Homo sapiens: one gene and its partners. The protein of the gene in region 2 interacts with the protein of the main gene of each other region in a pairwise test. Each region holds a gene or a part of one and is shown on either strand. Other genes may lie near its edges.

Region 1 (6,913 bases), on a different chromosome or scaffold from region 2:
GTTGGCCAGACTGGTCTTGAACTCCTGACCTCGAGATCTGCCCACCTTGGCCTCCCAAAGTGCTGGGATTACAGGCATAAGCCACCATGCCTGGCCAACTTTTACATCTTTATTAACTAATGCACTTAGAATACAGCCGGGCAGCAGTGGGTGAACAAAAATACTTGCAGAATGAGTGGGTATCATTTGCCTTTTTTCCATTATGCATCCTCAAACTCCAAAGCTTGGCTGCACATCTGAACCAACTGCACATATCACCACAAACAACATATAGCAAAGGTGGCAGGGGGTGGAGAGGACTGGAAAAAAAACTGGCTTACATATTTGACAGAGAAAATTCTCAACATTTGTGGCATGCTGGGGCTACAGAGTGGGAGGTCTTTGTCTCTGTTCATACTTATGACACGAACTCAATCGTGTCCCACTCCCAGCCCCCAGTAGCAAACCCTGGCAGTATCACAAGCTCCATGACCAGCTGTACCCTTGAATTTAACACAAACACCAGGAAAGGTTAAGGAATTTTCTTTATTTTTTACAAATTAAGACTATGCAGATTTCATATATTTCTGAATCAAAAACACCTTTGTCTTCACAGTATGAGTTAGAATGCAGCCTGAGCTGAAAATCAAGAAACTAGAAAAGAAAGTGGTAGAGATAACTATATTAAAAATCTGTTAGGTATTTTCTTTAAAAGTAGGTGTTTTTTTTTTTTTCTTTCTTTTTTTTTTTTAATATCTTGTCATTCTTGGCACTGTTTCTAAAGAAAAACTCCATTATCCCAAGCAAAAAGCACAGAAGGTGGAGTTTGGCTTCAAGAGATGTTAACTCAAAATCTTAGGCCTAGCAGAGAATCACCAAATTTATGGAGAGTTAACAGGGGTTTAACAGGAAGGAAGTGCCTTTAGTAAGTTCTCAAGCCAGAGGCTGGAGGCAGCAGCTAAATCAGAGGACAGCATCCTCAGTGAAAGTGAGCCATTCGGGGTGGCATGTCACTCCAGGAATAAACACAACTTAGAAACAAATGATTTCGTAGGATAGCACAGTGACATGGTGCACTGTGAACCTGAGGCCACTGTGTCAAACTGTGCACTGGTTGTGAATAGGGAGAGCCAAAAATTATGTCCTACTGGTAATGAGCTTTCAATGGCTCGATCCTCTCACACTGAAGCTCTGTAGAGCAGCTCAGAGCCACAACCACTCCCAACATTGACCCTTCTGGGGGTAGCTGTCTGTGGCAGCCCACAGGAAGGAGCTGGAGATCCCCATTAGGACTGTCCACCCACACTTGAAGCCACAAAACTGCAGGGATTGGGGCTCTCACTGGTTTGGTCGCCTAACTCCCGCCTAAAAGGCCACAAATTTCTGGAAAACAGGTAACAGACCAAAAACTAAAGTGCATCAGTAAAATGAACATTTATCTACTGCCCCGAATCTCTGGCTTGACACTACCTACTGGTGTCCAGTTGGAGACAGACTAAAATGCACTGAAGGACTATTAGGATTGCTGCCTCCTAAGTTATCACAGCCTCGCTCTGTTGATGTGAATGAGGAACTGCTTGGTTGTTAAAGGAGATTTTGCTCCCTGCTGCCCCAAACAGGTCCTTATCTAGGTTTGCTCCCCACTGCCCCAAACAGGTCTGGCAGGATTGGTTACAATGATCTCCAGAGGCTCAACCATTCCCCTTCCCTATCCTTGCTTGGGACATTTAATCACAGCCACCTAGTAGAGGCCGCTCAGTAAGGGGATAACAAACTAAAAAAACAAAAACAGGGCAAGTTTAGGGGAACCCTACGATGCTGTACCTTGATACACATAATCAGCCTTTTCAAAAATGCCTGACAAGAATTAGTCTTTCCTTTGTGCTGAAGTCTTCCCACCCATGGATGGAAGCAGGCTGACTCCCTGAGGGTCAGGCAAGGGGTGGGAAAGGGAACACATTACTTTTGTGAAGGCAAAGCAGAAAGGTGTGTTTGCCAGACCAGCATGGGCAGCTCAGAGGGAGCAAAGCATCCACCAGAAGAGGCTCTCCATTTTCTTTGTAGGGCCTGACAGTTGAGATTTGAGGCTGAGTTAACAATGGGACCACTGAACTTCTTTCCAATGGAAAACTCACGGCCCAGTCCCACAGGAACTGTGCGCATACCAAACAACAATGAGGAAGGAAGGGCCGGGTGGCTCTACCAAACAGTTCAGGTCCACTGGGTGAATGAAGCCTGGTGGGAAAGCGGACTCCTGAAGTTGGCGCCCTCTGCTGGTCCCACTTCTCATCGTGGCGGGTCGACTGCCTGAGTAGAGGAAGAGGCTACAGATGGGGTTGACAAAAAAGGGAGTGAGGGGAACCCCAGGAAGATGAAGCCAAACTCCAAACTATATTCTGCTAATCAGTTTTTTGATCAAAAAATTCAAAATAGAGGAAACCACAAAGTACAAAAGCTTTTCTGATGCTTTTCATTATCACAGAACACACCACCTGTAATGTGTGCAAAAAGGAAATGAGGGGTGGAAGGAGAGGAAGTCTAATTGGGAAAGGCTGGATGGTCACTTCATTTCTTCTCTTTCTTCTTATCCTAGAAATGGAGAAAAATCACCCAATTAATTTTTTGACATTTGACATTCAAGCTAAAACTCTTGAGTGAGCATTTAGTTAGGGACTAGAAGTGAGCCAGACAATTAAAAAGAAATGAGAAATGCTTCCTTAGCTCAGCAAGAACTGAATCTTAACCACATCCTACTGGTGGTTCCCAAAGTTGCCGACAGACCGACCAAGAATAAAGGTTAAGCAGCTGTCCCCACCCCCACCCCAGGAGTGCCGAGGTGGGCTGCCTGACCACTCTAGGCTATTCACAGCCACTACAGCTCAGATCCCAACAGTGAAGGCTGCAGATGGCACTCTATCCTCAAAGAGTGAAACTAGAGGCCAAGACCACCAACCAACCATTAGGCGCGAGAAGTGCTCCACCCTGCAAAGTGAGCATGACTCTGGCATAAACTGACATTCAGAAATAATTTGGTCCAGCAGAATTCTTCATTCAATCTTGGATGGAAGCCCAATGTATTAAGGAATGAAAATTCAGTTGCTTGTTCTGAAACTTGTACATCTGCCTAGTGCTCAGTCCAACCATGGCATAGCCCAGACAGAGCCAGCAATCCTATCTGGTCAACTACTCCCGCTACCACTATGCTATCTCTAAGCTCCATAAGGTCTATAAAGAAAAGCTCATTTCATTTGTTTCCCCCACTGCTTGACTCAACTACGTTAGATACTCATTAGCCCTATATAGAATGCTTCCTTGGAAAAAAAAATTAACAAATGGATAAAATTAGTCTACTTCTGAAATTTACAACGTCCTCCACAATACCTTTCTCTGAGTCACAACTATATAGCCTTTAAATTATTCATGTAGCAGGTTGTGTTTACTGCCACTGAAGCTTTTTTCCCTTTCATACTAAACGCAGGAATTAGTTAAAAAAATTTTTTTTTCACTTGCTGCTTTTTTTCTAACAACTGAAGACTTCTGGCTTACCTCTTACTCAGTGGCCTGCCTTACAGTTACCCTGGACCTAACACAGTGTGTGAGCAAGTTTTCAAATCTGAAGTATACACACATGCCAAGCTCAGGAGCCATTATTGTCTCATCTTTGGGTTGTAGGCTAACTAACCTTTTCATTCATGGCCAGGATCATCATGAGTTTTCTGAAGACAGTAATGAAATCTAAGAAGAGATCAATGCAGTGCCTGAAAGGCAAGAACCAGATTAGGATCTGTACTTCAGACTTTTTTATCCACAAGCCCACAAAGATGCAGAATATAAACCCCACCCCTACCCCCACGAGCCAGCTTCTCCCACACTTTACCCCCAACTAAGGAAGTAAAACTCTGGTGTCTGAGATCCTTTAGACTCATCGAAGTCATGCAGCATAGAGAAAAGAGACTGGGCCAGGCACAGTGGCTCATGCCTGTAATCCCAACATTTTGGGAGGCTGAGGCAGGTGGACTGCTTGAGCCCAGGAGTTCGAGACCAACCTGGGTAACATAGCAAAATCCCGTCTCTACAAAAATTAGCAGGGCATTGTGGCATGTGCCTGTAATCCCAGCTACTGAGGAGGCTGAGATGGGAGGAACACCTGAGCCCAGGGAGCTTGAGTCTACAGTAAGCCATGACAGTGCCACTCTCCTACTGCAGCTTGGGTGACAGAGCAAGCCCTGTCTCAAGCGCTCTGAACTCTGCAGAGGTCCAAGTCTGAACCCTTAACTACCACTAATTAGTCATGAGACTGAGAGAATCACTACATTAAAAAAAAAGTGCCGAGCACAGTGGCTCACACCTGTAATCCCAGCACTTTGGAAGGCTGAGGCGGGCATCACCTGAGTCAGGAGTTTGAGACCAGCCTGACCAACATGGAGAAACCCCATCTCTACTAAAAATACAAAATTAGCCGGGCATGGTGGTGCATGCCTGTAATCCCAGCTACTCAGGATGTTAAGGCAGGAGAAACACCTGAAGCCGGGAGACGGAGGCTGCGGTGAGCCAAGATCACACCGTTGCACTCCAGCCTGGGCAACAAGAGCGAAACTCCGTCTCAAAAAAAAAAAAGTGAGCTGGGCATGGTGGCCCATGTCTGTAATCCCACCACTTTGGGAGGCTGAGGAAGGCAGATTGCTTGAGGCCAAGAGTTCGACACCATGTCCTCACGGGGCAACGTGGCAAAACCTCGTTCTACTAAAATTACAGAAATTAGCTGGACGTGGTGGAGAGTGCCTGTAATCCCAGCTACTAGGGAGGCTGAGGCACAAGAATCGCTTGAACCCAGGAGGCGGAGGTTGCAGTGAGCTGAGATGTTGCCACCGCACTCCAGCCTGGGTGACAAAGCAAAACTGTCTCAAAAAAAAAAAAAAAAAAAAAAAGTGGCTGGGCATGGTGGCTTAAGCCTGTAATCCCAACACTTTGGGAAACCAAGGCAAGAGGACTGCTTGAGACCAATCTGGGCATATGGTAAGACCCCATCTCTACAAAAAATAAATTAGCCTGGCATGGTCGCACGTGCCTGTTGTCCCAGCTACTCAAGAGGCTGAGGCAGGAGTACTGCTTGAGCACAGTAAATTCAGGCTGCAGCGAGCTGTGTTCATGGCACCACACTACTGCCTAGGCAACAGAGCGAGACCCTGTCTCTAAAAAAAGAGTGTATCTTCTACTCATTGTTTAAAAAATACAGAAGTATAAATAGGAAAAGGAGAAAGATCTCTTTCCCTCACTTCTGCTTGGAGGTAGCCACTATGGATATGTAAATATATAGCCACCCCCCAACACTTTTTTTTTTTTTTTTTTTGAGAAGGAGTCTCGCTCTGTCGTCCAGGCTGGAGTGCAGTGGTGCAATCTCCGCTCACTGCAAGCTCCGCCTCCCCGGTTCACACCATTCTCCTGCCTCCGCCTCCTGAGTAGCTGGGACTACAGGTGCCCGCCACCACGCCCGACTAATTTTTTGTATTTTTAGTAGAGACAGGGTTTCACCGTGTTAGCCAGGATGGTTTCGATCTCCTGACCTCGTGATCCGCCTGCCCCGACCTCCCAAAGTGCTGGGATTACAGGCGTGAGCCACCGTGCCCGGCCCCCACACTTTTTTTTTTTTTTTTTTGAGACAGGGTCTCGCTCTGTTGCCAGGCTGGAGTGCAGTGGTGCAATCTTGGCTCACTTCAACCTCCACCTCCTAGGTTCAAATGATTCTTATACCTTAGCCTCCTGAGTAGCTGGGATTATATACATGTGCCACCATGCCCAGCTAATTTTTTTATATTTTTAGTAGAGATGGGATTTCGCCATGTTGCCCAGGCTGGTCTCAAACTTCTGAGCTCAAGCGATCCAGTGGCCTCAGCCTCCCAAAGTGCTAGGATTATAGGTGTGAGCCACCACACCTGGCCTATTAGCCCAGATTTTTAAAAAATCTGAAATCTTTCAGGAATTGAGGAAGATTATGGTACACAGTTCCAAAACCGTGGGTTTCCTACCACATACACTCCCAAAGCTTGGCCACCTATGTTCAGCCAATGCCAACCTAAGTTCAGCTGCTGAACGGTATGCCTCAACCTTCATGCTTGTTAAAGACTAGTTCCCACACTCACCAGATATAATCTTGATCTCCATGTTCGGCCTTTTCAATAATGAGTTGAGTATCAAAAAGGACGAAGCCACACATGACCACCAGTCCCACATACAGGTTTGCCTAACAAATGTAAGAGATGAAGTTACTATACAGCAGAAGTTGCAGAGAAAAAAAAACCAGCCATACTTTCTGGCTCATAGTCACTTGAAAGTACATCAAATGTGAACCCTATGAACATTACCATTCACGAGAACTGCAGCCTAGGGTGAAGACCACTTTACTTCCCTAGGCACAATACTGCACTGGTCACTGGAAGAGTTTCAATCATTTTAACAATCAGCCACTGCCAGACTGGCCTTACACAAATGGTGTCTGAGCAAACCATTTTCTCTTAGCAATGCCCAACCTTGTGCAGCCTGTTTTCACTTGTGGCAGAAGGCTCCATCCTATGAAGGATAATGGGAAGGCTTAGAGAGCACTGCCCAAAGTAGTACAGAAAGAAGTGCAAAAAAAAAAAAAAAAGGAAAGAAAGAAGTGTGAGGCAAATGGCTGCTGGAAAGTTCCAGGCTAAGTCTTACCTGGAAAAGCCAAATGGATCCAAAGAAAACATTCCCCAGGGAAGACAAAAGCAACAAGCTCAGGGCTGACATCAAGATACCTATAAGACACAGCAAAAAGCTGTCTTGAGAGAAGCCAAGGCAAAGTAAAGCAATCCCATTAAAGCCATTCCTTAACTTCCCCCAGAATGAAGGTTAATCTCAACTCAATAGTCGCAAAGGAGTTAGGGGTAAGGAAGGAGTACTAGTGAGAATT
Region 2 (4,986 bases):
TCAGTCCTTTGGATGTTAATCCGACTGGGTCGGTGCACCTAAATAATTAAATAATTCCTCCTCAACCCCTCAGTCTCTCTGGTTCCTTAATTATCCCGCTGCAGAATGGATTAAAAAATAAAGAAATAATTATTATATAAGTAGGATACAAGTGTTAGAAAAGAACCTTTGCACATACGATATACACGTAACTAAGAATAAATTATTGGTATAAATTTATGGACACAATAAGTGCTTATATTTCTTATTCATAAATTTTATTTTTCTTGGATATTTATGAATAAGAAATATAAGTGCTTTAGCAGATTTATAAACGAGGAACTGAGGGAAGTTTTCACGCCACATTGCCACCTCGAAAAGATGGCTATTGGAGTTGTTGGAGGTTATACGAGGAGCCACAATGGAAGTGTAAGTAAGTTTTCCACTGTATCTCTCCAGCACATCTGACCACAATCCCACCTTAGCTTTCACCAGCAACAGCAAGACCAACAACAACAGCAACATCATTGTCAAGTACCTGTGGTGCTGTTTCACATTTTCTTTTTATTTTCATTTAACCCTCAGAGCAACCGACAAAGTAGTTGTTATTATTACACCTATTTTACAGATGAGGAAAAATAGATCAGAGAGATTAGATAATTTGCCCATGTTCATACAGGTAATAAGTGACAGTTTCAGAATTTGAACCCAGATGTGTCAGATTCTAAAGGCCTTATTCTTTAGTTCTCTACTTTACAGTTTCCCATTGTCCTTTGAAGAACACATTTGGGCTTGCTCTCAGACTCGCCAACATAAATCATCATTTACATATCAGGGCATGTGTGAGTTCCAGCAGTTCACTGAAATAAAATCCCTGAGCCTTAACCCTCCCATCTCAAATACAGTGAAAATTTATTTTAATGATAATGATGGTAATTTTTTATTTGACACTTTTTATAATGCTGATGTTAAAGTCAAGAAGCATTTCTCTGTAATGGAAAAAATGTCTCATTTTTCTTCCTACTGGGCGGTCAGAAGTTGGATTTTAGAAAAAATATATTGAATAGGGATTATACCGCCTTCCTTCCTTAAACCTCATAAAGCAATGGAGTAGGTGGATAAGAAGAAATAGAACCAATTTCTGGAAACAACTTTGGAGTAATGATCATAGAAGTTACAGATATCCAAGAATGCCTAAAGAAATATATCTGTCCTTCCATACCCACGACACACAAATAGGATTTATAGTTAGGAGAGAAAGGATAGAGTCAGTCAAACGTCCAAGGTTCTTGTGATTGGTGCCATGATAGAAGGATTGAGCTTTACGAGCAGGCTTATGTTCTCCTGAGTTTGTGGGTGAAGCTCTGAGTCACTGGAGATTTAAGGTCAAATATTCATGCTCTCAGAATTAAGGAGGTATTCTTGATTACACAGAATTGGGAGGTGAGGAAATTTCCTAGAAAATAAAACAACATTAATGTCCAAGAACAGGATCATTATCTCCTTCTCCTCCCATCCCTTCCTGTTATCATCATAATCATCAACAATAAAATCCATTCATTGATGTTTACTGTGCCAAATGCCATAAAGATTATATACACAGTACTCACAACAAACATTAGAAGAGAATGAAAATATTATTTTCATTTTACAGTTAATATATCTAAAATTTAGAAAGAATTATTAATTTTTCCTAGGTCATACAATTAGAAAGTTACAAGTTATAAGAAAATAATAAAACTTAATTACAGCTGTATAAGAAAGTATGCTCTTATATATCAAGTACAGTATTTCCTCTTGCATGTTCACATCCAAATTCTTTTCTACCCTTCATTCCATCTCTAACATTCATACAATCTCTAATTCCAGGAACTCCACAAATCATTACCACATAAAGGTTTATTTCTAAGCATCAGAAACAACTTCAAACCCTACAGGGAGGCTTTGAGATCATGTGAATGATTAATCATTTGAAAAATCTCACCTCTCTTGAATTACAGCAGTTTGCATTGCACCACATGGCTATGGTAGAGATGGTTACGCATAATTCCAGCAAGGTGAGAATCAGCAGTAGAGACACCATGCCCTAGGGGATATGATGCCTTATATCAAACCCAGTGGCAACATCCAGAGGTAAAAAAAAAAATGTCAGCAGGAAACCAGACTACAACATCTCCCTCCCGTAAAGTGGAACAAAGTGAACCATAAATTAAAGACAGAGACACATATAACACTGTAGAAGAGATAGTATCTCAATCTAAAAGCATGAAAACATTTTCTCTAATGAGAAAGATGTGTCACATTTCTATGTCAACGCATGTGAAGTAGCTACAGGGGGAAGAAGCTGTAGAAACAAAATTCTGACATTATCACTAACATCTTCCAATCTGAATAGTAGTAAACTAAGGAGAGGAGTAGGCAGTTTAGAAAAATGAACAAAAATGGCCCTTCCACAATTTCATTAGCACTTCATAGGGGTTTAGGCATTTACATTATCCCTAGAAACTAAAACACTGAGCTAATATAAACAAAAAATAAAATTGTTGGGCTAATGATTCTACTATTATTACTGAGGCACCTAGAAGCAACCAATACAATATATCCCTGGAGGAAAAATACCTCCAAATTCACAGAAAAATCAGGCTCCGACAAATATAAATTTAGATCATTAAAAATGTAATAAAGAAAATGAGAACACAAACTTCCATAAGTAGTGTCTCACCCATAGGTGGGAACTGAACAATGAGAACACTTGGACGCAAGGCGGGGAACATCACACACCAGGGCCTGTCGTGGGGTGGGGGGCTGGGGGAGGGATAGCATTAACAGAAATACCTAATGTAAATGACATGTTAATAGATGCAGCAAACAAACACGACACATGTATACATATGTAACAAACCTGAACGTTGTGCACGTGTACCCTAGAACTTCAAGTATAATAATAATAATAAAAAGAAAACAGGAAGCTTAGGAGTGAGTCTGTAATTAACAGTTCATAGATCACTGGGATGAAATGGATAATTCCAAAGGAAAATATTAATTTCTAAGTAGAGTTCAGAAGAGGTAGAGTACCTGAACACAAATTTTTAAAAAATTGGTAAGGTTGGCTGGGCGCGGTGGCTCATGCCTGTAATCCCAGCACTTTGGGAGGCAGAGGCGGGCGGATCACGAGGTCAGGAGATCGAGACCATCCTGGCTAACACAGTGAAACCCCGTCTCTACTAAAAATACAAAAAAAAAAAAAAAACAATTAGCCGGGCGTGGTGGCGGGCGCCTGTAGTCCCAGCTACTCGGGAGGCTGAGGCAGGAGAATGGCGTGAACCCAGGAGGCGGAGCTTGCAGTGAGCCGAGATGGCGCCACTGCACTCCAGCCTGGGTGACAGAGCAAGACTCCGTCTCAAAAAAAAAAAAAAAAAAAGGTAAGGTTATTAAAGAGCTTTCCTTTGAAAACACCATGCTAATTTCATTCTAAAGCGCAGTCCTTCAAAACTTCAAGTCATTATTTGAACATTCCAGATTGCAGAGAAAGTTGTAAATCTCTCAAGTTTGTTTTATTAAGCAAGGAGATATGAAATGAAACTTTATTTTTTTATTTTTTTATTTTTTGAGACAGTTTCACTCTTTTTGCCCAGGCTGGAGTGCAATGGCGCAATCTCGGCTCACCGCAACCTCCGCCTCCCGGGTTCAAGTGATTCTCCTGCCTCAGCCTCCCAAGTAGCTGGGATTACAGGCGCCTGCCACCATGCCCGGCTAATTTTTTTTTTTGTATTTTTAGTAGAGACGGGGTTTCACCATGTTGGCCAGGGTGGTCTCGATCTCTCGACCTCGTGATCCGCCTGCCTCGGCCTCCCAAAGTTCTGGGATTACAGGCGTGAGCCACCGCGCCCGGTGAAATGAAACTTAAAAAAAAATCTCTCTGGGGAGTGTAATAGTAGTAGTTGTGGTAATAATAATTGTGTATCATGATATGCTAAGCCTTGTTTTAATTGCTTATCATATGTTAACTTTTTAAATACTCACATAAATCCTATGAGACGGGTACTATTGTTATCCTCATTTCAAAAATGAGAAAATTCAAGGGATTATCTAATTTGCCCTTCATTATAAAGCAAATAGGCGACAGACCCAAGATTCAAATTATGGGATGGGCGCGGTGGCTCACGCCCCTTATCCCAGCACTTTGGGAGGCCGAGGCGGGCGGGTCACGAGGTCAGGAGATCAAGACCATCCTGGTTAACACGGTAAAACCCCGTCTCTACTAAAAAAATACAAAAAATTAGCTGGGCATGGTGGTGGCCGCCTGTAGTCCCAGCTACTCGGGAGGCTGAGGCAGGAGAATGCTGTGAACCCAGGAGGGCGGAGCTTGCAGTGAGCCGAGATCACTCCACTGTACTCCAGCCTGGGCGACAGAGCGAGACTCCGTCTCAAAAAAAAAAAAAAAAAAGATTCAAATTATGGCACATTGGTACCTGATATATTATTTTTCTGTACATCCTGGATTGTTTGAAATATTTTATACTTATACATATTTTTCAGAAACATACATTTGATATGGAGCCCATGTAATTGCATAGGTCCGGTGACTCTGATGAAGAGTGACAACTCCTTAATGACTGGATATTAACTGCTATATTTAGTGAGAGAAAAGCAGTCCCCACTAGTGCAATTGTAGCACTGGCAATGTTCATTCCAAAACTGTTCTGTATCTAAAAAAGAATAAGAATTTTCAATTAATATATGCAGCACGTACTTCATTCCTTTGGCAACAATTCATTGAAACAAACATTGATTGAATATTGTTTACACACCCACTGATATCCTAGATGCGAGGCTAACATCAATGACCAAAGAAAGATTTCTGTCCCCCACCCTCCATGGAGCTTATATTCTAGCAATAAAAACAAAGAAAAAAGTAAACATACTATAGGTAAATTACATAATATTTTTGAAAGTGATTAAGTACTAGGGGCTAACAGAATGGGATAAGGAGAATCTGGGAATCCA
Region 3 (7,035 bases), on a different chromosome or scaffold from region 2:
CTACTCAAATTTATAAAGTTCCATACACTTGGAAGAATCCGTCATCAATAGCCAGGCAGGTGTCTGTGAGTATAGTTATAATCGCCTTTGAGCTATTTGCATTACGAAGGAATGGCATGAAAACATGAAGGTATAGAAGTAAAGATAGAGGACTGATTCCAACCCAGAAAAAGGAGTTCTGATTTAGGGTAATATTTTGGAGAAATTGCTTAGACAAGGATAAGTACTGTGCCACTTATTGCAAAGTATACTGTTCATTCACCACTATTAGTGTGACTGAATTTCTTTTTTTGGCCTGCTTCATTCTTCCTCCCTTCCTGCTTATGGTTAACATAGACTGGCCCTCATTGTCTCATGTCCTCTGCCTTTGTTTCCAAGGCAAAAAGCCCTCCCACGTTTGAGGGGAGTCATGAGCCGTTTCCTGAATGTGTTAAGAAGTTGGCTGGTTATGGTGTCCATCATAGCCATGGGGAACACGCTGCAGAGCTTCCGAGACCACACTTTTCTCTATGAAAAGCTCTACACTGGCAAGCCAAACCTTGGTAAGAAATCAAAGAATTTCTGCATCCTTTATAGGACTTATAGGACTGGCCCTATGCTGTGGTTCCCAAACCAGGCTGTACATCAGAGTAACCTAGGAAACGTCAACAAACACAGGTACCCATTTCCCTCACCAAACCTATTTATTGAACCTGGGTGGAGCTCAGGAATCCAGTTGCTAAAACACTTCCCAGATGATTCTGATGCTGCCTTAGCTAGCCTTTGGCAGCTACTGGAGTAATAGACTTTGTGGTGAGCACTTGACCCTTTTTCCCCCAAGCTTCTCTGAATACTTTTCATTGATTTTACACTGCCCTGGGCAATTCATGTATTTAAAAAAAAAAAAAAAAAAGCATTATAAGGGCAAGTGAGGAAATAGACTTACTTGGTGACTCTGTGATGCCTGACAAGAAAGCCATAAAGAAGCTTTACATATATCTCAAAGCCCTCTTCAGAATCAGGTTTACATGATTCTGGGGCTTACATGACTCATATTCCATGTTACAGATGGAGAGTTATTAATTCAAGGTCTTCCGTGACATAGTCCCTGAGAAGGTATTTAAAATCCCTTCAAGTTGGTCTCCCAAAATGAAACTTAAGAAGGCCCATGGCAGCCTTTCCTGGCTTCCTGAGCCTCTCTACTGAGAGTGTCCATTTCAGCTTCCACTTCATCACGCTGATGTGTGGGGTAGTTTAAGCTGCAGCACTGTTTCACAGCAGATGACAATTCTGTGTCACATTTATAGCTAACCCAGATTCAGGCTCTGACCTAGCTCGTTTTTCTGCAGTGTCTGAGTATAAAATGAAATTAAGTAGGCTAAGGCTCATTTTAAGAAAGCTCAAATATAATAAGAGTAAAGAACCTGGGAAAGTGAGCAGAATAATTCCATCTTTTCACCTTCAAATGCTGCCCTCAGGTGGTCATGGAACCCTATATAGATTCACACATTTTTAGAGGTCATCTGGTCTAGCCCTTTGAGTTTAAAGTTGAGGCAAAGAGGTCCAGAGGTCATGTGACTTAAAGGCATATAGCTGAGCAGAACTTTATGTGTGTGTGTGTGTGTGTGTGTGTGTGTGTGTGTGTGTGTGTGTTCAGCCAGCACGGAAGCTGAGGCTGCCATCTCCCTTGTGATCTAGGGGCCTTCATGGTACTCTTCTGAAAGTAGCAGTGCTCTAAAGTGTCCCACAGAATTTCACCTCATACCTAATCTGGTTAGGGCTGGTTGAGTACTCTTAACTAGAGAAACGTCCTTAGTCTTCTCATTATCAAATTGGTTTATAAAGAATATAGCTATCCAGGGCTAATGCTAGATATTTGGTTGGCATATGGAATTTTTTCTCACTACCATCTAATGGTCTTCAGTATTGTGAATTTGGGAGAGCTGTCTGATTTTCCAAAGGCTGGAAAAATCCTTAAAGCCCAAGTAAACATTAGTAGACTTTTCAGTTGTCAATTTTGTCCCTTAAAATTTATCTTACTCAGCAGGTAGTAGACCAGCAAAGGAAGTATCTTTGCTTTCACTGTTTTGGCATCCCCGAGCCACTGGATGCCTTAGCTCAATGGTTTTGCATTTAAATTACCCAAACAGGGAGTTTCTAGAAAATACTTATGCCTGGGGCCCTCCTCCAGAGAATACGATATAGTTGGTCTGGTACCCAGGCCTTGTAATTTTATAAAACTACCTCAGTTGATTGTAATAAATGCCCAAAGTCAAGAACCACTGTTATGGTGGAATATGACCTATACTTTCAGGACAAGATATTTAATACAGCAATGTCAGAACAAAGCTACCAACAGCAGGATGCCCCCAGCAAACACCAAAGAAACAGTGCTTTGTCCCACTGCCATGCACACAGGAAACCAACCTGGTATTGGTTCATCCAACAGCATAGATCTGGATGCAGGAAGAGACCCAGGCACTCACATATCTTAAAGACCATATATGGGCATCTAAATTGGTCCCCAGTATCTCTGAGTTCTCTCCTGGATCAGCCTTGAAAGTCTGCTGGCCTCCTGGGCATCTTGCATTTCCAGATCAGTCTCTACAACGTTCCCCAAAACCTGTCCTGATCCAGACCCTCTAGGCTTCCAGGACAAAAGGGGTAAATTACTATATCTAGGAGTTATTTGCCTAACTGGGCTCTTTGTGGGTTTCCACTCTTGGAACTTCCCTTCCAACTGTAGACATTTGAAGAGAATCTGAGAAGTTCTCATTCTGGAATTCCTTCTATTCCTTCTAGTTCCCATGTTGCCACTAGGACCTCCATCCTGCCCAGCCACAGAGAGGTCAGGTCCAGCTCCCTATCTCCCATGAACCACCAGTGAAATAGGAGGAGTTTGGAAGGAACCTCAAGTCTCCCCTTCTGAACACTCTTGCTTTTTTCTGCTACACAGTGAATGGCCTCCAAGCTCGGACCTTTGGGATCTGGACGCTGCTCTCATCAGTGATTCGCTGCCTCTGTGCCATTGACATTCACAACAAGACGTATGTAAGGGAAGGAAGAGCTTTAGCATCCTTTTGTTGGAAATCAGATGCGAGGCATACCTGTTACCTTGAGTAATGGGAACTGTTAATCATTTTAATGCATTAGCTTAGAATGTGAATAATAAAAAACTCACAGGTTACATTCCCTCCAAGCCTAGAAAACATAGTAGACCTAACAGGTCTTCATTAAAGTCTGAAAATTCTTTGGAACTGACATAGCAAACTGGCAGGCCATTATCCAGTGGCCTGCATCATGCCCCTCCACTTCTTTATGAAAGAATCAGCCCTTCTTCTACTAAAGAAGTAGAGTGGTATGCTCTTTTTAGAGTAGCCACCCACACATACCTTTCTCACATTCCTCCTTAAGAAGCAGGAATGAACAGAAATCACAATCCATGAAAAAAGAGGAACCCACAAGTAAACTGTTGTATGTGTATGCAGCATCAGCAGGTGAGGGTGAAAGAGAAGCTAGGGCTCCTGAATCTACCTGTCTTGGGTACTCAAACAGACCAGGGTGGAACAATTGCAGGCAATCAGAAGCCATAACCAGTGCTGGCCACTAGAGGGGGCTCGAGCTTTCTTCCCAGCGGGAGTCATCATCACACTCTAGGTGGAAACAGTTTGTTCAGGTCACCGAGGGAGGCTATCTGAATGCCAACTTCACATTAAAATGTTTTTCTGTCTTATCCAGGCTCTTGGCATCTGGGGAAAACAGGAGGCGATAATATTTATTGAGCCCCTCTTATTATGCTGAGCTTTTATCTACGTGATCTTGATTAAGTCTTTTCTTAGCAGCCCTGGAGGTCATGATTTTCATTCCTGATTTTGCACATCTAAATATTAGAGATACAGTTAGTTTAAAGAAAGACTGACTCAAGTGAGATTTGAAGCAGGGCTATTAGCCGTTTGATCTCTTCAACCTTATTTTTTTTTTTAATTTTTTTTCAAACTTGAACCTGCAGTTTACTTGTCCTAGAATGACACATACTTTTGGAAGCAGTGTGTTTAGTTCTGGGCCCAGTTCTGTTGGTAACTAGCTTTGCAGTAGCAAGTCCATTATTCACCTTCCTTGCACCTTGGCCTCTTCATCCATAAAATGAGAATAGATATCTGTTCTACCTCTCAGGGTGACTAAGAGGAAGGGAGGATTGAACAATCATTTTAAAGACCTGTACCACAATGAAGAATTGCTGATGAGTATGAGGGATATATCTTTTGATTGTTGTGCTTTTGAAGTGAGCGAAGACAACCCAGACTTATCTCTTTTTTTTTTTTTTTCTGAGACAGTCTTGCTCTGTCACCCAAGCTGGAGTACAGTGGCACAATCTCAGCTCCCTGCAACCTCCACCTCCGCCTCCTGGGTTTAAGCCATTCTCCTGCCTCAGCCTCCCCAGTAGCTGGGATTACAGGCGCGCACCACCATGCCCCTCTAATTTTTGTATTTTTAGTAGAGACAGGTTCTCACCATGTTGGCCAGGCTGGTCTCGAACTCCTGACCTCGTGATCCACCCACCTTGGCCTCCAAGGTGCTGGGATTACAGGCTTCAGCCACTGTGCCCGGCCTGACCCAGACTTATCTTTACCTCAGTTACCATTTACTTTCACCTCTCCCCACACAGGACAGCTGCAAACGCTGACTCCTGTTTCTAGACCTTTCTAGCCTAGGACTTTGATCGATGCACTTCTGATGTGCATTCTGATCCTATTCCCTCCCTAACTAGAGACTGAAAGTCAACACACATACATATTGTTTCCACAATGGGCCAGGCGCGGGTGGCTTCTGCCTGTAATCCCAGCACTTTGGGAGGCCAAGGTGGGCAGATCACTTGAGATCAGGAGTTTGAGACCAGCTTGGCCAACATGGCGAAACCCCATCTCTACTAAAAATACAAAAATTAGCTGGGCGTGGTGGTGTGCACCTGTAGTCCCAGCTACTCCAGGAGGCTGAGGCAGGAGAATCACTTGACCCAAGAGGCGGAGGTTGCAGTGAGCCAAGATTGTGCCACTGCACTCCAGCCTGAGAGACAGAGCAAGAGTCTGTCTCAAAAAAAAAAAAAAAAAAAAAAAAGGTGTAAAAATATGCACAGGAGAGATACAAATCAAATGTAAGATACCAGTTACTTGTGGGGATGAGGGAGAACAGACTTAGAGCAGGATAAGTATACACAGGATGATTTAACTCTTCTCTGTAAGTTTTTATTAGAAGAGTCTGAAACAAAATGTCAAGATGTTAAGATCTGAGGGAGCTGGGTGTTGGTTGCATTGGTGTTCATTATAGTGTTCAGTAATTTTTTTGTATGTTTGAAGTATTTCATAATTTTAAAAAATTTTATACTAAAAAGATATCAGCAAACAAAGTGGTCAGTCACCTAGTAGCCTGTCTCTTCTCTACCTTATAGTCAAAGCTGAAAGATAAGTTCTTTTCCCATGAGGTTGTCACCATGTCCTCAATGTGACTACTTTTCTAGGCTAAGGCACAAAGTAACCAACGTATATTGCAAGAGCATCTAAAAGCCCCAGAGGTGTCCTTGCTCCTTACTCCCCATGAGGCCGTTCGTTCTGTGGCATCCATCTTATAAACACCGACAAGTGCATGGCCAGATGCCTGCCAGGTGGGATTAGACTGCAGAGTCAACCAATTTGGATAAATAGAATATGTAAGCGTGCTGGATCCAAAGTTGTCTACACTGCCTGCGATTGTCATCATTCAGGCTCTGCTTTGCTATAGCTGAGTTCACCACTTTGCTGAGACCTGGACGTTCATTCTGGATGCCTGAACCATTCTCCTCTCAGTTTAGCAGTTGAAACCTTCAGTTTTGCCCTAGATGAGAATATCGTTGTGATCAAATAACCAGCTCTTCCTCAGGAACAAGTGTCCTTTCTTTTAAGTCTTAATGACATCCTGGGTTCTTATTTGTCTGTATGAAGTCTGATACTTTTCCTCTGTTCTGAACAAACAGTAACTTTGGTTCCCATTTCTGTCTGCTTCCTTATAGGCTCTATCACATCACACTCTGGACCTTCCTCCTTGCCCTGGGGCATTTCCTCTCTGAGTTGTTTGTCTATGGAACTGCAGCTCCCACGATTGGCGTCCTGGCACCCCTGATGGTGGCAAGTAAGCATCCAACCACCCTAGACCTCCTACAGGAGCTGTGCCAGCTCTAGAGCTAGTACAGAGGGTGGACACAGGAGAGAGAGAGAAGAAAGGTACCGTATGTATGTTAGTCACTAGTCTTTCCTCTGTATTTAAGGTTTCTCCATCCTGGGTATGCTGGTCGGGCTCCGGTATCTAGAAGTAGAACCAGTATCCAGACAGAAGAAGAGAAACTGAGGCCAGCATTATCACCTCCAGGACTTTCTCGTTTTCCACCTTGGCCATCTTCTTCCTTCGTCGTCTCTCCTCTTTAATTTCTTTTCTATTCCATCATCTGCCCTTTTATTCACTTTTAGCCTCTTTTTTTAATTTTTAAAATTTAAAGATATGCATACTGAAAAGTATATAACATGTACGTACAATTTAAAGAATAATTTTAAAGTGAATACTACGTAACTCCATCCAAGTCAAGAAATTGCCAGCTTCTCGGAAGCCCACTGTGTCTCCTTCCCCTACCTGCAACCTCTTCCAGGCTCCCTTTTCCAGCCTTCCCCTTTTTCCCTTTTATTTTCATGCCTTGATTTGACTTGTGTGGTGGGAACATGTGAACTATGAAACTTAAACCTGCTGCCCACCCAGAGCAGCTGTGACCAAGGGCTGCCTCAAGGGGTTGTCCACGCAGGTTGGGCTCCTCTCTGCTGCTGGACCCAAGACTCTGAACCTTCCAAGGGACAGGCAGTTCTTCTAAGAAGGGCTCCCCTGTGTGTGAGCAAGACCACAGCTCTCCTTCTATCTACAGATGCATGAGGGTTGGAAGAGTCTGGGCTGTTTTTAGACCTTCTGGTCAGCTGTATTTGTGTAACAACTTTTGTAATAAATAGAAAAACCCTCTGCTCTGATCAGTTCTTGTACTTT
Region 4 (6,289 bases), on a different chromosome or scaffold from region 2:
ACTTGCTTTAAAATAAATGCTCAATAAAGTTTTTCAGGTTGAGGAGAAATTACACCAGAGAGAAACACAGAACATTAGAAATTAATAAAGAACAAAGGAAATGATGAATATCTGAATATGTATTTTTCTCCTCTTAAATTCTTTAAAATATATATATGACTGACGAATGCAAAAATCATAACATTGCCTATAATGTTTCAGTGTATATAGATGTAATATATATGACAACTACAACATAAAAGAAAGTGGATAGAGGTACTAATATGATTATAAGCCTTCTACGGTTTACTGCAAGTGGCAAAATATTAACTTTATGCACACTGTGAAAAGTTAAGTACATTGTAATCCCTCAAGCAACCACTAAAAAATACCACAAAGAGATATAGGCAAATACCCAATAAATAAATTAAGATAAAATATTATGAAATATTTAAACAATCCAAAAGAATTCTGGAAAGAGAATAAAACAGAAGTGGTGAACAGCAAACAAATAAAACAGTCATCCATCTTAAATTCAACAATTTTATTAAATATAAATTGTCTAAACACCAATTAAAAGACAGATATTTTTAGACTGGATAAAAATTATACCCAACTACATGCAGTCTGTAAGAAACACATTTTAAATACAATAATATAGATATATTTAAAGTAACATGATGGAAAAAGATATACCACAAAAACACTAATCAAAAGAAAGTTGACCAGGTGTGATGGCTCATGCCTGTAATCCCAGCACTTTGGGAGGCCGAGGCGGGTGGATCACAAAGTCAGGAGTTTGAAACCAACCTGACGAATGTGGTGAAACCCCGTCTCTACGAAAAATACAAAAATTAGCTGGGCGCAGTGGCATGAGCCTGTAGTTCCAGCTACTTGGGAGGCTGAGGCAGGAGAATTGCTCATGGTAGAGGTAGCAGTGAGCCAAGATCACACCACTGAACTCCAGCCAGGGCCACAGAACGAGAGTCTGTCAAAAAAAGAGAGAGAGAGAGAGAGAGAAAGAAAAGGAGGAAGGAAGGAAGGAAAGAGAGAGAGAGAGAAAGAAAGGAAGGAAGAAAGAAAGGAAGGAAGAAAGAAAAGGAAGTTGAGTGCGTATGTTATTTTTAGACAAAGTAGACTTCAGAACACAGAAAATTATCACAGATAAAGAAGGACATTACATAATGATAAGAGAGTAAATGCACCAATAAGACATAATACTAAACATGTATATATCTAATAATAGAGCGCTAAAATATATGAAGCAAAAGCTGACAGAACTAAAGAGAATTGGACAAATCCACAATTGTACTTCAAAGCATCACAGGACCATTAATCCTGAAATCTTGACCTCAGTTTCTCTCAGGCCTCTTTTGGCCTCAGTTGACTCTCTCTGTGCCTCTGGTTCCACAAAGGAATAACCCTGCCCCAGAGAGTTTAGGGTAACTGTGAAAGCGTGTTCTGTAAGGAGCCCACCCCAACCAGATGTGAGACTGTGAGCATAGCCAGACTTTAGCTACTTGTTGAAATTTTAGAGAAAATCAATAGGAATTTTCCAGCTATGTCTCTCTGGGAAACTCATGAAAGCTCAAACACAGCATTAAGAGTTTGTTGTGGACAGGTATTATTTTGCATCTATCATCCACTCTCCTATTTCTGATAACAGTGTCCCAATTTTGCTTTAGGGAAAATACCTCTACATACCCCTAACTTAAGCTGCAATTAAGTCAATATGAATATTTCATCCTCCTGACTCAGTGATTGGTCAGAAACAGGCACACAACTCAGCCAGAGCAATGAGATGCAAGGTTACACTTGCTGGGGCATCTGGGAAAGAGAGCTTCCTCTCTCCTCTTTGGGCATCACCAGAAAACATGATGTCCATTTAGCCAGATGGTGTGGCTTGGGGATACGAGAGCTGGGCAGGCCACAGTCTTTTTGATATCGGGAGGGAAACCCTAGAACTATACTGTGTAGCACCTGAGGGTAAAGCCTACACTGCGGAAGGCAGAACAGAAGGACATACAGAAAAGGGTCTTGATTGTTTTGAGCTTTGGTTCAAACCTTATCTAAAGACAGAACAACTCTGGTAATTTCTATTATGCAAAGGAATAAATGTTTCCATTTTTCCTTTATTTTTCTTGCTTACAGTAGTTTGCATAATATTTTGGGTTTTCTGTTGTGAATGACATTCACAACACAGAGTTCTGACTAACACAAGGCTTACTCTCACCTCTTCATCCCTCTCTAAACCTCATATCTATCTTTCTCAAAAAATAACAACAAAAATGGAGGCGGGCAGATCACAAGGTCAGGAGTTCGAGACCAGCCTGGCCAATATGGTGAAACCCTGTCTTTACTAAAAATACAAAAATTAGCCTGGCATGGTGGTAGGCACCTGTGGTCCCAGCTACTCGGGAGGCTGAGGCAGAAGAATCGCTTGAACCTGGGAGGCAAAGGTTGCAGTAAGCCGAGATCATGCCACTGCACTCTAGCCTGGCAACAGAGGGAAACTCCATCTTAAAAACAACAACAACAACAAAAAGACAAAGCTTTATATGTGGAAAAAATAATACCTTAATGATTAGCAATACACATATAAGAGAGAATTGTTCAGAATTTAAAACTGTAAGCAAAAAGATAGTTTTTTAAATTTATATATTGATAGAGAATGCTATTTACTCTGTTTTTGCTAAAATCTTTGAAGAACATCACTGGAGTTATTGTCTCCTGAGAGAATGTTTACCACCATCAACTACCTCAACCTGTAATTCTTAAAGAACAATAATAAATTCAGGAGGCCCAGTCTTCCCTGACCCTGTTGGTACTCAAGGAGACAATGGCTTCAGAATTCCTCCATGGGTTTTGCATTTCAGGCTCAAGCTACCTTCTTGATGAAAAATTCTGGACGTGTTCTGAAAATCACAGTCATCCCTAACTTCAGTGGAAAAGATTCATATTGTCCAGCTGAACAAGGATTGATACTTAAAACCAGGGATTTCCTAAAATGAAAATGTTTCTGTGGATAAAACTGATTACATGCAGAGACTGGAATGGAGTTAATTCTGGGTAGATATGGGATTCAAGAGATTGGTCTTCATGAGGCATTTATCAAGGATCTGCAAGGGATTTAGAGGTGACGGAAGCACAGTCCTTCCTGGGCAGTTGCCTCTAGCCTGGTGGGAGGTGTTCCTCACACCCAGGACTCTCATCCATGGCAAAATAAAAAGTGAGATATCGACTGGGCATGGTGGCTCATGCCTGTAATCCCAGCACTTTGGGAGGTCGAGGCGGGTGGATCACCTAGGCCAGGAGTTCGAGACCAGCCTGGCCAACATGACGAAACCCCATTTCTACTAAAAATACAAAAATTAGCCATGTGTGGTGGAATGCACCTGAAGTCTCAGCTACTCGGGAGGCTGAGGCACAATAATTGCTTGGACCCAGGAGAAGGAGGCTGCAGTGAGCCGAGGTCGTGTCACTGTACTCCAGCCTGGGTGACAGAGTGAGACTCCATCTCAAAAAAAAAAAAAGTGGATATCACATCAGAGAAGCTCCTGGCCAGGTGGCCTTGAGGAACAGGGATGAGTTCGGCACTTAGAGATGGAGTTGGCTTTCCCCGTTGGAGGGAAAGGCATGAGAAGGGACATAGGTAAGAGGAAGTAGAGTAGTGCAGGGGCCATTGAGTAGTAGTCCTTCCAAGACAGGACGTCATCATAGAACCACTTTCTCTGAGGAAGCTCTGCTTGGGGGAGGTTTTAATTCATGAGGAAGGCAAATTCAATGGCTCTCAGGTGAGGTGGGAAACAGACACCTACCAACACTCCAAAGAGAACATGTACCTCTATAAAAGGGCACAGTCTAGTGAACAAAGTCCACAGCTCTGGGTTTGATTTCTAGCACTGTCACTTAATACTGTGTGACCTTAGACATTCACTTAACTCTCTCAGCCTCAGGATACAATCTGTAAAAACAGGAGAATGCTTGTTCCCTGTGCCTTATAGGATTGATATGAGCATCAGGAGAGACAGTGGGCACAAAATAGCACTGTCAACTACTTCTTTCTAGTCAGTTATCTGGTCATGTTTGTGAAGCTCCCCAGGACTGGGAACATAGCATATGATTTTTTTAAAGTTACTCGATGAATGAATGAATAAATGAATGAGTAAATGAATGAATAATATCTAAAGGCCTCCAACTAAATAATAATCAACTTCCTAACCGTACTGAAAGCCTTTAATTGACTTTGGGGCTGTTTGGCCTGGAGGAGGCTCTGAGTTAGTGGTGATCAGTTGGTGTCATGGTAGAGAAGAAAGCCTGTGAAGGTGGAGTCATTGTCATTATCAGCATAGAGTCCATTACGCTCTCCTTCCCCATACACCTGGAGCCAGACTTGGTCGCCCACCTCCAGATGCAGGAGCACAGAGCCGGAGGCCTGGTCCACATTATTTTCCTGGTACTGATCATAGGTGAAGAGCATAGCCTTGTCCTTCTTGAAGAGGCTGACCTTCACATCCTTCATATAGACTGTGATGTGGTAGGCAAAGTAGTACAGCCCAGGAATGTTGCAGTGGAATTTACCAGTGGAGCCATCATAGTGGTTTTGCTGATTGTAGAAGATCTTGGTAAAGCGAATGGGCATGTTGGGGATAGTAACGTAAGTCTCCAATCCCACACTGAATGCTGAGCGGTATACATAGGCACCTTCTCCAGGTTCTCCTTTCCTGCCTTGGATTCCCGGAAAGCCTCGGGGACCTTCAGCCCCGGGTACTCCGGTTTCACCGATGTCTCCCTTAGGACCAATAAGACCTAAGGAATGAGAAGACCTCAGTGACTACAAAGAACAGAACTCCTGCCTAGGTTGGTTACAGCCTAAATTACCATCCCTGTGGCTCCCACTCACAACCTTCTTGACTTATAGATCAAGAAACCAATAAGAGCTCCCAAAAGGAGAGAGGTGTTACCTCCTCCTTCTATATCTCCCACAGACATGGAGGCTCCCATAATTTCAACTCTATCTTTATCTCCTATAGGTCTCTATCATAGACCCTCCACCCTGCCAGCCCTTTATGTGCTGGCACCATCAACCCTGGTTTTGCAATTCTACCCCCTCCATCTAGGATGTCTCTCCTCCTCTATTCTGCCTACCCATCATTCAAGGCCTAGCTGAAGCTCTGCCTCCTCCTTGAAGCCTTCATTCTTCATCAGGTCCACGGTGAGTATATTTTCTCTATGCTCCATACTTTGAATACTTGTTCACATTCAGTTTGACATTTTTAGAGTAGACTTTCTTGTAGTAACCACCAACAGAGCCTTGCACATTAGACATCTTACCTAGATCAAGAGTTCCCCAAAGGCAGGACTGAGCCTTTCAGGGGGTGTGCAGTAAATGTGGTTGAATGCCACTGGGTGAAATGGAAGTTAAGCAGACAGAAAGAGGAATCAGAATATGAATGTACTGGGAATAGGGATGAGGGTGAAGATGGGAAAGGGGATGGAAAAGGAGCTGCAGATGCAGCAAAGCCAAAGTCTTGGTTATAGAGGCACCATCTACACTCATCCTTGGAAGACCAACCCCAAATCACTTCAGGTTGCTTATGGTTAACATAAAAAAGCTTTGCTTTCTCCCTGTGTCTAGGCCTTAGTTAATAATGAATGCCTTCATATAGTTTATATCAGTGTAGGAGGTCTGTGATGAAAGAGGCCAGAAACATTCTTACCTGGATCTCCTTTCTCACCCTTCTCACCAGGGGTGCCATCTCTGCCATCACGGCCTGGGGCCCCATTATGGCCCGGATGCCCTGGGATGCCCGCCATCCAACCTGTGCAGGCCCCCTTGGGCAGGGGAAGCAGGACTCCGGGCCCTTGAGTCGTGGTTTCCTGGTCATGACCGGGCAGAGCTAATAGCAGTAGAACAGCTCCCAGCAACAGCATCCTGAGCCCTGGAATCCACATGTGCACTGTCAGCCATGGAGAGACAGACCCCACACACACACCCAGTTGGGACCTACAAAGGACTCCGTCCATCTCAGCAGAGTCTACTTCTAGGAGCTGCTTTCTAAGTATTCAACTTTTCCAGGAAGACTTTTCTGAATATTGCAGCCCACCTTGATCTCTTTCTGCCCTGAAATCTGTAATACTTAGCATTATTCCCTGTGTGTAGTCTCCTTTCCTCACCAAGATTATGAATTCAGTGATTGCACAGATGACACTCCTCTAATTTTCCCATGTCTGAGCACAGGACCAAGCACAGGGAAAGCTCCAAGAGTCGACTTGCCAAGAATCCATCCTTGGGTTTCCCAAGTACGAT

What was found.
Region 1: the proteins of MS4A3 (region 2) and TMBIM6 interact in binary tests that used the Homo sapiens proteins (3 or more experiments, as listed by UniProt).
Region 3: the proteins of MS4A3 (region 2) and ERG28 interact in binary tests that used the Homo sapiens proteins (3 or more experiments, as listed by UniProt).
Region 4: the proteins of MS4A3 (region 2) and ADIPOQ interact in binary tests that used the Homo sapiens proteins (3 or more experiments, as listed by UniProt).

The regions. Positions count from the first base shown.
Region 1 is NC_000012.12:49,758,528-49,765,440, reverse strand, and holds the end of TMBIM6 (bax inhibitor 1), read right to left. Parts: intron 6,759-6,913; coding exon 6,679-6,758; intron 6,221-6,678; coding exon 6,120-6,220; intron 3,738-6,119; coding exon 3,662-3,737; intron 2,569-3,661; coding exon 2,545-2,568; 3' UTR 507-2,544; downstream 1-506. UniProt on the Homo sapiens protein: Endoplasmic reticulum (ER)-resident protein that confers cellular protection as an anti-apoptotic protein by limiting multiple stress-inducing pathways surrounding the endoplasmic reticulum and mitochondria.
Region 2 is NC_000011.10:60,066,653-60,071,638, reverse strand, and holds the end of MS4A3 (membrane-spanning 4-domains subfamily A member 3), read right to left. Parts: intron 4,689-4,986; coding exon 4,527-4,688; intron 2,066-4,526; coding exon 1,964-2,065; intron 1,436-1,963; coding exon 1,406-1,435; 3' UTR 524-1,405; downstream 1-523. UniProt on the Homo sapiens protein: Hematopoietic modulator for the G1-S cell cycle transition. Modulates the level of phosphorylation of cyclin-dependent kinase 2 (CDK2) through its direct binding to cyclin-dependent kinase inhibitor 3 (CDKN3/KAP).
Region 3 is NC_000014.9:75,650,877-75,657,911, reverse strand, and holds part of ERG28 (ergosterol biosynthetic protein 28 homolog), read left to right. Parts: intron 1-378; 5' UTR 379-409; coding exon 410-542; intron 543-2,935; coding exon 2,936-3,026; intron 3,027-6,022; coding exon 6,023-6,141; intron 6,142-6,277; coding exon 6,278-6,357; 3' UTR 6,358-7,035.
Region 4 is NC_000003.12:186,852,683-186,858,971, reverse strand, and holds the end of ADIPOQ (adiponectin precursor), read right to left. Parts: exon of another isoform or gene 5,922-6,289; 5' UTR 5,914-5,921; coding exon 5,700-5,913; intron 5,195-5,699; exon of another isoform or gene 5,100-5,194; intron 4,840-5,099; exon of another isoform or gene 4,789-4,839; coding exon 4,268-4,788; 3' UTR 509-4,267; downstream 1-508. UniProt on the Homo sapiens protein: Important adipokine involved in the control of fat metabolism and insulin sensitivity, with direct anti-diabetic, anti-atherogenic and anti-inflammatory activities.